Linked DNA regions of Homo sapiens. The protein of the gene in region 1 purifies or fractionates together with the protein of each later gene. This does not show direct contact. Each region holds a gene or a part of one and is shown on either strand. Other genes may lie near its edges.

Region 1 (5,089 bases):
AGAGAAAGGAGCCAAGAATGGCTGTTGGGTGAGCCAGTTAATTGTGAGTCACAGTTATCACGTAAGAAGCACCTACTGTGTGCACGTGGGATCTTCTAGAAACTTTCCATACAGCGTCTTGTCCTCACAATGGCTCTGCAGGGTTTTATGTTGACAGATGGAGAAGCAGATGCTCTGAGATGAAGAGCAATAACAACATAGATAACAGTGACTCTAACACCCACCATCCCTCCAGTTGAGTCCATGCACAGCATATACCAAGTACAGTGTTGACCACGTTACACTCCTCCTCTCGCAGATCCTCACTAGGCCCTCTCAAGGTCGTGGGAGAATCCCCGTCCTGCAGATGAAGGAGTAAGGACAGCCTAGGCTCCCTGACTCCGAGTCCTGAGTTCACCCGTCCCCAGACCCTGCTGCACATGGCCTGTGGCCTAGCAGACCCTTAGGGTCCCTGCTTCCAGTGCCACCAGTTCTTGTCCACCAGGGAGGGTGGCAGAGCCGGCAGCCAGATAGGCTCCTGCCCTTCACCACTTGAAGGTCAAGTTGCCTGAGATCCCTCTTGGAAGGAAACTGAGAAAACACTATACCAACATCAACATCAACAAATAACATTTAATAGAACTTAGAACTTAATGGAACTTCACAAGACAAGATACTCTTGGTAGCTAAGGGCTAACTTGGGCACTGAGCTTCCTGGCAGTCAAGGCAAAAGTGGAAAATAGTGGATTTTGTAGATGAAAAGCAGCTTGTTTGGCTGTGAGACAGGAAGCCAGCAGTTAAGGGAGGGAAATTCCTTTCCCAGAAAAATGGTCATGGGGTCAGGTCTTCATTTCTGTCCTATGGCACTGAGCTTCTTTAGGACCTAGTTAGTGATATAATCAGGGTGGATTAGAACCAGGCCCCAGTGAGCCGGTTTCTATGACTCAGAAGCTGGTCGCCTCTGCAGGGATCTTGGGCAGTCCACCCTATGTGATTCACCATCTCACAGTAATAAATATGGCCCACCAGGTTGGCACCAACCACATGCCAGGAGCTGAGCTAGAAAAGTGAGCTGCAATACATGTTCAAATTTACAAACATTTTCCATTTGAAGAAACTGAGGCCCAGGAAAGCAAAGTGACTTTCAGCCACTGACACACACAGCTTGGATGCATCAGAGTGGGGATTTCCATCCTGATGCCTTGGAGTCCAAGGCCCATGCCTCCCTATCCACCACGCTGCCCTCCCGCCGGCTGGGTAACTCTGCTTGGCTGATAATGAGGAGCTTAGCCTCAGAGGTGTCCTATCAGCCCCAGAACAGGACTTGTTTGGAGATTTGGGTTTCTCGACCCCAGCCAAGCTCTGTGCATTGCACCCCCTGCCCCTGTCTTCCCCTTCAGAGTCCACACCCCCTAGTCCCAGCCTGCCTCACCTTAGTCCACCACCATCTTTTCTGGAAGGCAGGGGGAAATTTTCTGGCTTTGCTGAAGAAGTTCTGGTGCCACTGTATCGCCCGAATTGGAATGAACAATATATTTTTTTCTTTCGCAACGCATCATAAATCTCAGTGGAAGACTAAACATACTCTTGATGTGTTTATTCTGGCAGACAAGGCTCAGCGTGGGGGTGGGACTTGTTTGAACCTAAGGAAAAGAAAGGCCTTTTGAAAGGAGATAGGGCTCCCGTGCAGGTGGGTGGGAGTGACCCTGCTGTGGTCTCCAGGGCTGCCCTCTGTCCTTCCTGCCTCTGTCACCCGCAGCCACTCTTCTCAGGGCAGCGATGGGGAGGTTGGGGACCTTGGCATGGCCTGTCACCTCTGGAGCCTTGGGTTCTGCTTCTATAAATTGAGAATAAATCTGCCTCTCCCTGCTCTACCACTCAGGTTGAAGTGAACACAGACTGTGACACTTCTGTGAAAATGCAGAATGGTGTCCAAGGGTCTTGACTGTGGAACCACTGCTCTGACATTCTGGGCATGCTACTCAGCCTCCCTGTGCCTCAGTTTCCACATTTGTCAAACTAGTAACAATATAGGCCCACTGTCCCTTCTCTGCAATTCTGAAATCCAAAGAAACACTTTAAAAACCAAAAGTAGCATTTGCAACTAATTTGGTGGCAAAATTGAACCTGAACAGAAGCAAGGCTATGTATGGCCTTTGCCTGCCCCATTCGGGTGTCCCTAGGGAAATAGAAATGAGACTCACTGCAGGCTGCTGCCCCAGCCCCCACTAGTGGGTGTGATCTGTCCCTCCAGGCCCTTTCTAAAATCTGATCCTGTCTCGAGCCGGAGCCCCCAGGGGCTGCCTTGCAGCACTTCAGAGATGAAGAGCACTAACAAACGGGAAGGGCGTCGTGCGGCACTCAGCCGGAGGCTGATGTTGCTGGCATCATTGCCAGTGTTTATTATTATTGCCGCCATTATTCACTTCATGAAGGCCTGGTAAGGGCTCAATAGGTGGCAGCTGTTCCTGCTGCCCTCGTTGTCAGCAGAGCAAGGGCTGCGGGAATGGGGATCTGGGCACGGTGCTAAGATCCTCATCTGCTTGTTTATCCAGCCTCTGGTGAGCAGAGCCCAGCCCTGGGATTCAGGGGCCCTGTGTTTTAGTGTGGGCTCTGCCGCTGATTGCTGTGTGGCTTCGGATAAGTTACCCAGACTCTCTGATCCACAGGCGAGCTCTTGGGCCATGCCCAGTGCAGGCAGTCAGGGATTCTGACTTGTTCTCTCTAGAGAGTGGAGGTGGGAGGAGTGAGAAGGAAGTGAATGCAGTTTGCCCTTTCCTGTGGTGTGTGGGTGCTGAGCTGGGTGCACTTGGCAGGCCATACCTGTGCCAGGGAGGCCCCTGAGGCTCTGAGTGCTGTCACGCTCAAGCAGAAGACATTGGAGGGGAAGGGGCTCACTTGGCCTGGCTGGGAGCCAGAGGTGGGGGCTGTGACAGTGGCAGTGGCTGGCCAGACAACTCCCCAGAGATGTTGGTCAGGGGAACTGTGACTTCCTTCTTGTCCTCCTTGCTCTCACCCTGAAAGCCCCAAATTGTTGGTGCGCACATACCCTCATGTGTGAGACACAGGTGGCGAGACGGGTTCCTAGGGGACAGTGTGGTTCTCTGTGAACTGTCTGCTTGCTGAATTAGAACTTCCTGATTCTCTGGCTTGGGGTTCTCTTGCGATGGGGCAGAGGGAGGAAGAGCAGCTGGAGCCTGGGACAGGGAGAGGTGACCTTTCTCTCCCCTGTTGAGAAGGGAATGGAGGAGTCCAGGCTACCCCTCTGGAAAGGGATTATGGAAAGACACTTGGGCTAGAATCTCTGAAGCACACGCTGGTCACTGGCTCTGCATTCTGGGGTAGCTAATTACGTGGATTGCAGCTGGACTTGCAGAAAAGATGCAGGAAGCGCCCTCATTTCCTATCAGGGTACTGGGATGCAGCCTCTGAGCTGGTGTATCTGTATTCTAGCAAAGCATTTGCCAACATCTCATGTGGGAAACCTGGAGAGGACAGGAAGATGTGGGTCCAATTCATGCATTTATACCTTATTATAAGGGGCTATTTCACACCTTAAAGAGCATGGCAAGAGGTCTGCACAGCACCCCAAGGGGCGGGCACAGGAGCCCGAAAAGTTACCCTGGAGATGTAGTCTAGTCTCAAGTATCTGGATGACATGTGTCCTTCGAGAGAGGGATTTGATTTGTTCCTGTGGTCCTAGCTGGGACTTGGGTAGCTGAGAGAGGAGGAGGATGTGAACTAATACAAGTGGGTAGAAGTCATTTGAGCAGAACTTAAATTGTATCAGAGCCTCTCAACTCCGCAACATGCTATTGTGTGAGGTACTGACTTCCCCATCGCAGGGAGCATTTAAGCAGAGCCTAAAAAAGCATGACTCTTACATTTGGATGATTTGCTGGACGCAAAGGTCTCTCCTAACTCTGACTCTGTGAAAATTCACACTAAAAGAGAAGTCAAAGCTCAGCATTTGGGTGGGACGTGAGTAGAGCCATGCAGAGGACAGCAGGGTCATGGGGAGGCCCTGGGCAGCTTGCCGAGGCTAAGATCCCGGGTCCCTGGAGCTGCACAGATCAAGGTCTGGTCATGTCTCTGCTGCTTTCTATCTATGTGATCTTGGGAAGTTGCTCCAACTCTGAGCCTCATTTTTCTCTTCTGAGAAATGGGGAGGAGGGAGACAGGGAAGACAGGGCTGGCTTCCTCGGCATTCAACCTATGCAGTCACACAGGATAATCTGCTGTTGCTGTATTGAAATTCTTTTTTTTTTCTTTTCTTTTTGAGATAGAGTCTTGCTCTGTTGCCCAGGCTGGAGTGCAGTGGGATGATCTCGGCCCACTGCAACCTCCACTTTCTGGGCTCAGGTGATCCTCCTGCCTCAGCCTCCCAAGTAGCTGGGACTACAGGCACACACCACCAGGCCCAGCTAATTTTTGTGTTTTTAGTAGAGATGGGGTTTCACCATGTTGGCCAGACTGAACTCGAACTCCTGACCTCAAGTGATCTGCCCATTTCGGCCTCCCAAAGTGTTGGGATTACACGTGTGAGCCACCACGCCCAGCTGAAATTCTTAATAATTTTTAAACAAGGGGCCCTGCATTTTTGCTTTGCACTAGGTGTAAATTATGCAGCTGGCCCTGGGCAGGACTCTTTATGGCATGTGACAGTGACTCAACTGAAAGTAGCCAGAGCCAGCAGAAGGCTCAGCTGGATCCCAAAGGCTGCTGCTGTCCCTATTCACCCTTCAGCCCTACCCTCCTCTGTTGGCTCCCTTCTCGGGCAGGCTGTCCCCAGTGGAGCCTGAGGGTAGCCCAGGTCCTCATCCTACCACATTGATGGAAAGAGGGCCGGGTATGTGAGCATGGGTCTCAAGCCCATCTCTGAACCACTCGCCGTGCCTGTGATGTGGATGGCACTGAGTGGCAGCCCAGGTCTTTTGCCTGCTTCTGGCATCGAGGGAGTGGGGCCTCCTCAGCTCCATGGAGAAATAGAAGGGTGGTTACATCCAAGGAGTGGGTTTCTGCAGGGCAGGCAGAAACAATGGAGCGGTCCCTGGGGGGATGGAGGGAGCTCATGAATGTCTTCTCCTGCTACCTCCCTGTCCTTTTTGTC
Region 2 (5,089 bases), on another chromosome or scaffold:
CATTTATTTTTATTAATCCCTCTTTTTTTTTTTTTTTTTTTTTTTTTTGAGACAGAGTCTCGCTGTGTTGCCAGACTGGAGTGCAGTGGCTGTGTCTCGGCTCACTGCAACCTCCGCCTCCCGGGTTCAAGCGATTCTCCTGCCTCAGCCTCCCAAGTAGCTGGGATTACAGGCACGCACTACCACACCCAGCTAATTTTTGTTTTTTTTTTTTTTAGTAGAGACGGGGTGTCACCATGTTGGCCAGGATGGTCTCGAACTCCTGACCTCGTGATCCGCCTGCCTCGGCCTCCCAAAGTGCTGGGATTACAGGCGTGAGCCACTGTGCCCGGCTAATCCCTCTATCTTTTAATTTTAATTAGAATCACATTGGATTTATAGACTAATTTTGAGAAAATAGTACAGATAAATTTGCATGTTGAACCACAGAATGTTGTCACAGAAAATGTGAGTGGGGAGGAAGAAGAAAGATTATGACATTAAATGTAAGTTTATAAATTTTTATGATACTACTTTGAGAAACATTAATATAGTTTATAAGGAAAATTATATTTTAAGGGATTTTCTACAAAGGTGAAAAAAAATCACCCTATGAGTTTAAAGGATTTTAAGCTTTATATTTAATTCTTTCCTTCTTTTATTAATTTAATCTATATTTCTTCTTTTTTCCTAGGATATCCTAAACCTGAGGAAGGAATACTTGACAGTTTGGGTTGGTATAGCTATCATGACAAATATAAGTGGTAGTATGTGTAGAAACGTGTAGGTAATTAGTTTTTATGAGGTGCCCAAACATAGGATCCTTGGTAGGGTAAGATAACTTTCTTAAATGCTGTGTTTGTATGTAGGTTAAAATATATAAAACACAATTTTCTTTCCACATTATATTGTTATTTTGTGATGGTAATCTGTCGATAAATTTTCTTTCTATTCATATCTTATATACATGAACCTTAAAGCAATCTAAGTTGGGTTTATTTTTTCTGTAACACGCTGATTTAACACACTTGATGTAGGCTTACGCAGTTTACACAATGCATGTTAAAAAAAAAGATGAAGTGCAGTTGTGATATAGGCCAATGAAAAATAAAGATTTCTTAATAAGTAAAAACAAAAATCTATTACCTTTCATTTCTTAGACTAGTTTGGTAATGGTTAATCATTTTATATAATGCACCTTAGGCTTGTTTTTTAGTATTTGCCTTACCTCCAAAATCTGTGGTCCAAGTAAATCTGTTGCCATCTTAAACTGTTAAACACTTGATAACTGTTTATGAGATGAGAAGAGCAGAGTTGAACATAGCACTTTATGCTTTGACTTATAGCAATTTAATAAAAGTAATGGCAGTTTAGAAGCAAAGGTACTAGGGACAGAAACAGTTCTAAAAATTAAGATTTTATAGGATTATTTTGTGTTCTCTAGATAGTCAAAAATGTATTCTCAAATTTCTCTGTATATTTTTTATCCATGTGCCCTGGTGTTTCATTTATTATGGGAATCCTATTGGTATTTAGGACTATGTCTTAATTTTGGGGCAGGGCAGAGTATGGAAGTAGAGAGGATGGGAAGGGGATTGATAAGATAAAGTATTGTTTGTGAAGACTTTGTAAATACCATCTGGGCAATAGAATAATAGAAATTTATTTATGACTCACTCTACAGATCACTTTTGGAGGAAAAAATACAAATTAAATGTCTACCAAAATAAGAAATGACAGAATGACTGTTGAACTAAACCAACTCTCATGGGATAATACTTTTCAAAAATCATTTTCCTTTACTATAGTGAATTCTAATTACTCTAATAACTTTACCGCTAAATAACCTGATGTGGTAGCTATAGAGAAAAACAGTGAAAAATGAGGTTCCCATTAAGAGTTTCACAAGTGGAACCCTTAACCTGGAAACTGGTTAGAAGGGTTCTATGATCAAAATGACCTGGATGCCCTAGCAGTCATGCTAAAACTATATAAAAAATTTTTTTTTCCTCTGTAGTCTTGTATTAGTCCATTCTCAATGCTGTTGTAAGGAACAGTCTGAGACCGGGTAATTTATAAAGGAAAGAGATTTAACTGACTCAGTTCTGCAGGGCTGAGGAGGCCCCAGGAAACTTATAATCATGGAGGAAGGGGAAGCAAACACATTCTTCTTCACATGATGGCAGGAAGGAGAAGTATGAGAACCAAGTGAAGGAGGAAGCCGCTTATAAAACCATCAGATCTCGTGAGAACTTACTATCATGAGAATAGCATGGGGGAAACTGCCTCCATGATTCAATTACCTCTCATGGGGTCCCTCCCACAACACGTGGGGATTATGGGAATTGCGATTCAAGATGAGATTTGGGTGGGGACACAGCCAAACCATATCAAGTGTTTAGATGATCTGATTGAAATAAATGCTATCTGGAGATCCATGTGTTCAACATCTTGGAACTGTTTTCTTTCTCAGATGTTTGGGTCATTGCTGTGATTGTTATTGCCATAGGTAAGTATCACAAATTTTGACACCACTTAAGTCAAAAAATTATTGTGAAGACATGCATTTTAAAAATAGTTTTTCAGTTTCTATAGTTTTTTCAGCTTGTAAATTGGTTAAACCGATTTAGGAAAACCTGACTTTTTATTTGATATACTTAACTACCTACCTTGTGTTAGTGATTTTATACTCTGTTATATTCTGTATATCTACTTAGTAACAAAGCCTAAGTAATACATATTTTCTCAAGATGATCAGTAATATTAGTTGGCTTCCCAAATGTGCTTTTGATAGTTTTCTAAATTAAGCAAGGACTTTTCTCTGACTTACTATGGACTGTGTAAGTGATTATGGGGAGTTGGATTTAGATAGCAAAGAGTCTGGATGGAATATAAATGTGTAGGTGCTTAAATAACATTTGACCACTGAAATGTAACCAACATTTATTTCTTCTGCTAGATGTTGAATCTTGGTGATTAGTTTTCAGAATTATATGTCATTTGTTTCCTGGTTTCTTATAGTTGTTGGAGTTGCAGTAATTTGTGTTGTCCCGTACAGATATCTTCAAAGGAGGAAGAAGAAAGGGTAAATTAAAGCATGTTTCTTTTAACTTCTTGGTCCTTCTTATACTTAACATGCTTTTGTGCAGCTTCAGTTTGTAATCTGTATTGCATGCTATCTTTTTTTTTTTTTTAAAAAAATGCCTGCATTAGTTTGTCCTACCAATTGCATTTCTTTGCTAAAAATATTTTCAGCTACTTCTAACATCACTGCAACATAAAAACATCTGTGCAGAGTTCCTACAGCTATTATGACTTTAAGAAAAATTTCTTTTGGATTTGAGGTTTAAGTTATTTAGCAAATCATGGACCACTCACTATGAGGCCTTCTCTACCCTATTCCCTATTTCCAAAATTGCACTAATGGCCAAAATTAAATTTAAAGTATTTCACTGTGGAGACTTTGACAGTTGTATTCACTGGAATTTTTATAATGAAAGTTTCCACTTGTCTATATAGCTTAGCTAGTTGCAAGAAGCTATGTAGGCATATCATTTAAATACCCAATTTGGTGTCTTTTCATTTAAAGTTGTTATTTATACATGTTAAACTGGGGGATTCAAAACAACACTATCCGATTTCCCTCTTATGTTCTCTGAATTTACCAGATTGCAGTAAAACTGATAGGGTTAAAGTTAAAATTGCTGAGAGGGGTTAGATCTATAAGGTACCTCAATTAACTGTGTCTTTTAATATATAAAAATGTAAAAAGTGAGTGGGTTTAGAATAGAAGAAAAATGTACAAGTACATATCTTCTAAAGAAAATAGGGTTTTAAAACATCAAACTCAAATTTTAGTTAAAGAGCTTACAGTTTAACAAAAGACTTAGAATGAATCCTGGAACACAGACTAAGATTAGGTGCTTTGAAATTTCTGAAAGATAATATACATTCATTTTTACTGATTTTTAAAAACTGTTTTCCCCTATAGTTTTAGAAATAGCTTTGAAATCAAACCTAATAATTTTAAGACTTTTGGTACTCATGGTTTTATGATATATATTCCTTTTATACTGATCATCAGGTTTGGGCTAAGTCATAAAAGTACAAGCTTTACTCATAAGGAACTCAAACTTTTTTCATATTACTTGGTTATCTTTTGAAATACCCATAATCCCTTCACTTGAATCTTAAATCTTGTATTAATGGAACACGATATGCATATTTGATTTATCTATCAGTTGTATATTCTAAAAGTTACATATCTACAACGTGAGTACAAAATATTATCAATGGAATATTTTTACAAATCCATAAGGTTTGCGTAGAAACAAGTTCTAAAGAAAACAAAACAAAGTCGCATTCTGCTTATTTTCCTTCTTTGTTTAAAATATCACTGCATCAGAATTTTTAAAGGTTCATTAACAAGTATTAATCAAACTCTCTCTAGCTAGCAGTTAATGGTTTTTCTGTTGTTGTTTTTTGCTTTTTTGTGATGGAGTCTTGCTCTGTCACCCAGGCTGGAGTGCAATGGCGCAATCTTGGCTCGCTGCAACCTTGGCCTCCTGGGTTCAAGGGATTCTCTGCCTCAGCCTCACGAGTAGCTGGGATTACAGTCGTGCACCACCACCACCGGCTAATTTGTTGTACCTGTACTAGAGATGGGGTTTCACCATGTTGGTCAGGCTGGTCTTGAACTCCTGACCTCAGGTAATCCGCCCACCTCGGCCTCCCAAGGTGCTAGGATTACAGGCATGAGCCACCGCGCCCGGCCTTAATGGGTCTTTTAAAGCTCAACAGTTATCTGACTGTTACACTCCCAAATGAAAGGTTCAATAGCAGTAGTGAACTGAGATTCCAAAATTAATTTGTCCAGTGATTTTTTTTTAAAGCCCATATTTTACAGCATAGGGTCCAACTGACAGTTGCCATTATTAAAATTTTAAAATATTTTGGGAAGGTATGATATCTTTAGCCAATGCAACATAATTAATCCTGCAAATAGTAGCACAACTTGAGGAAAAATAGTCCAGAAAATGGTGTGAGAGACGAAACTCCTAATTGCCTTTGAACTTTAAAATATAAACTGCGTGGGAATCTTTTAGAATAG

Evidence for each region. Proteins that work in one complex are often made in the same cells at the same time.
Region 2: the proteins of CD82 (region 1) and CD46 purify together in Homo sapiens (affinity purification with western blotting, with the first as the bait; one study listed by BioGRID). This does not show direct contact.

What each region holds. Positions count from the first base shown.
Region 1 is NC_000011.10:44,606,595-44,611,683, forward strand, and holds part of CD82 (CD82 antigen), read left to right. Parts: intron 1-5,089. UniProt on the Homo sapiens protein: Structural component of specialized membrane microdomains known as tetraspanin-enriched microdomains (TERMs), which act as platforms for receptor clustering and signaling.
Region 2 is NC_000001.11:207,782,619-207,787,707, forward strand, and holds part of CD46 (membrane cofactor protein isoform 3 precursor), read left to right. Parts: intron 1-673; coding exon 674-712; intron 713-2,452; coding exon 2,453-2,488; intron 2,489-3,000; coding exon 3,001-3,064; intron 3,065-5,089. UniProt on the Homo sapiens protein: Acts as a cofactor for complement factor I, a serine protease which protects autologous cells against complement-mediated injury by cleaving C3b and C4b deposited on host tissue.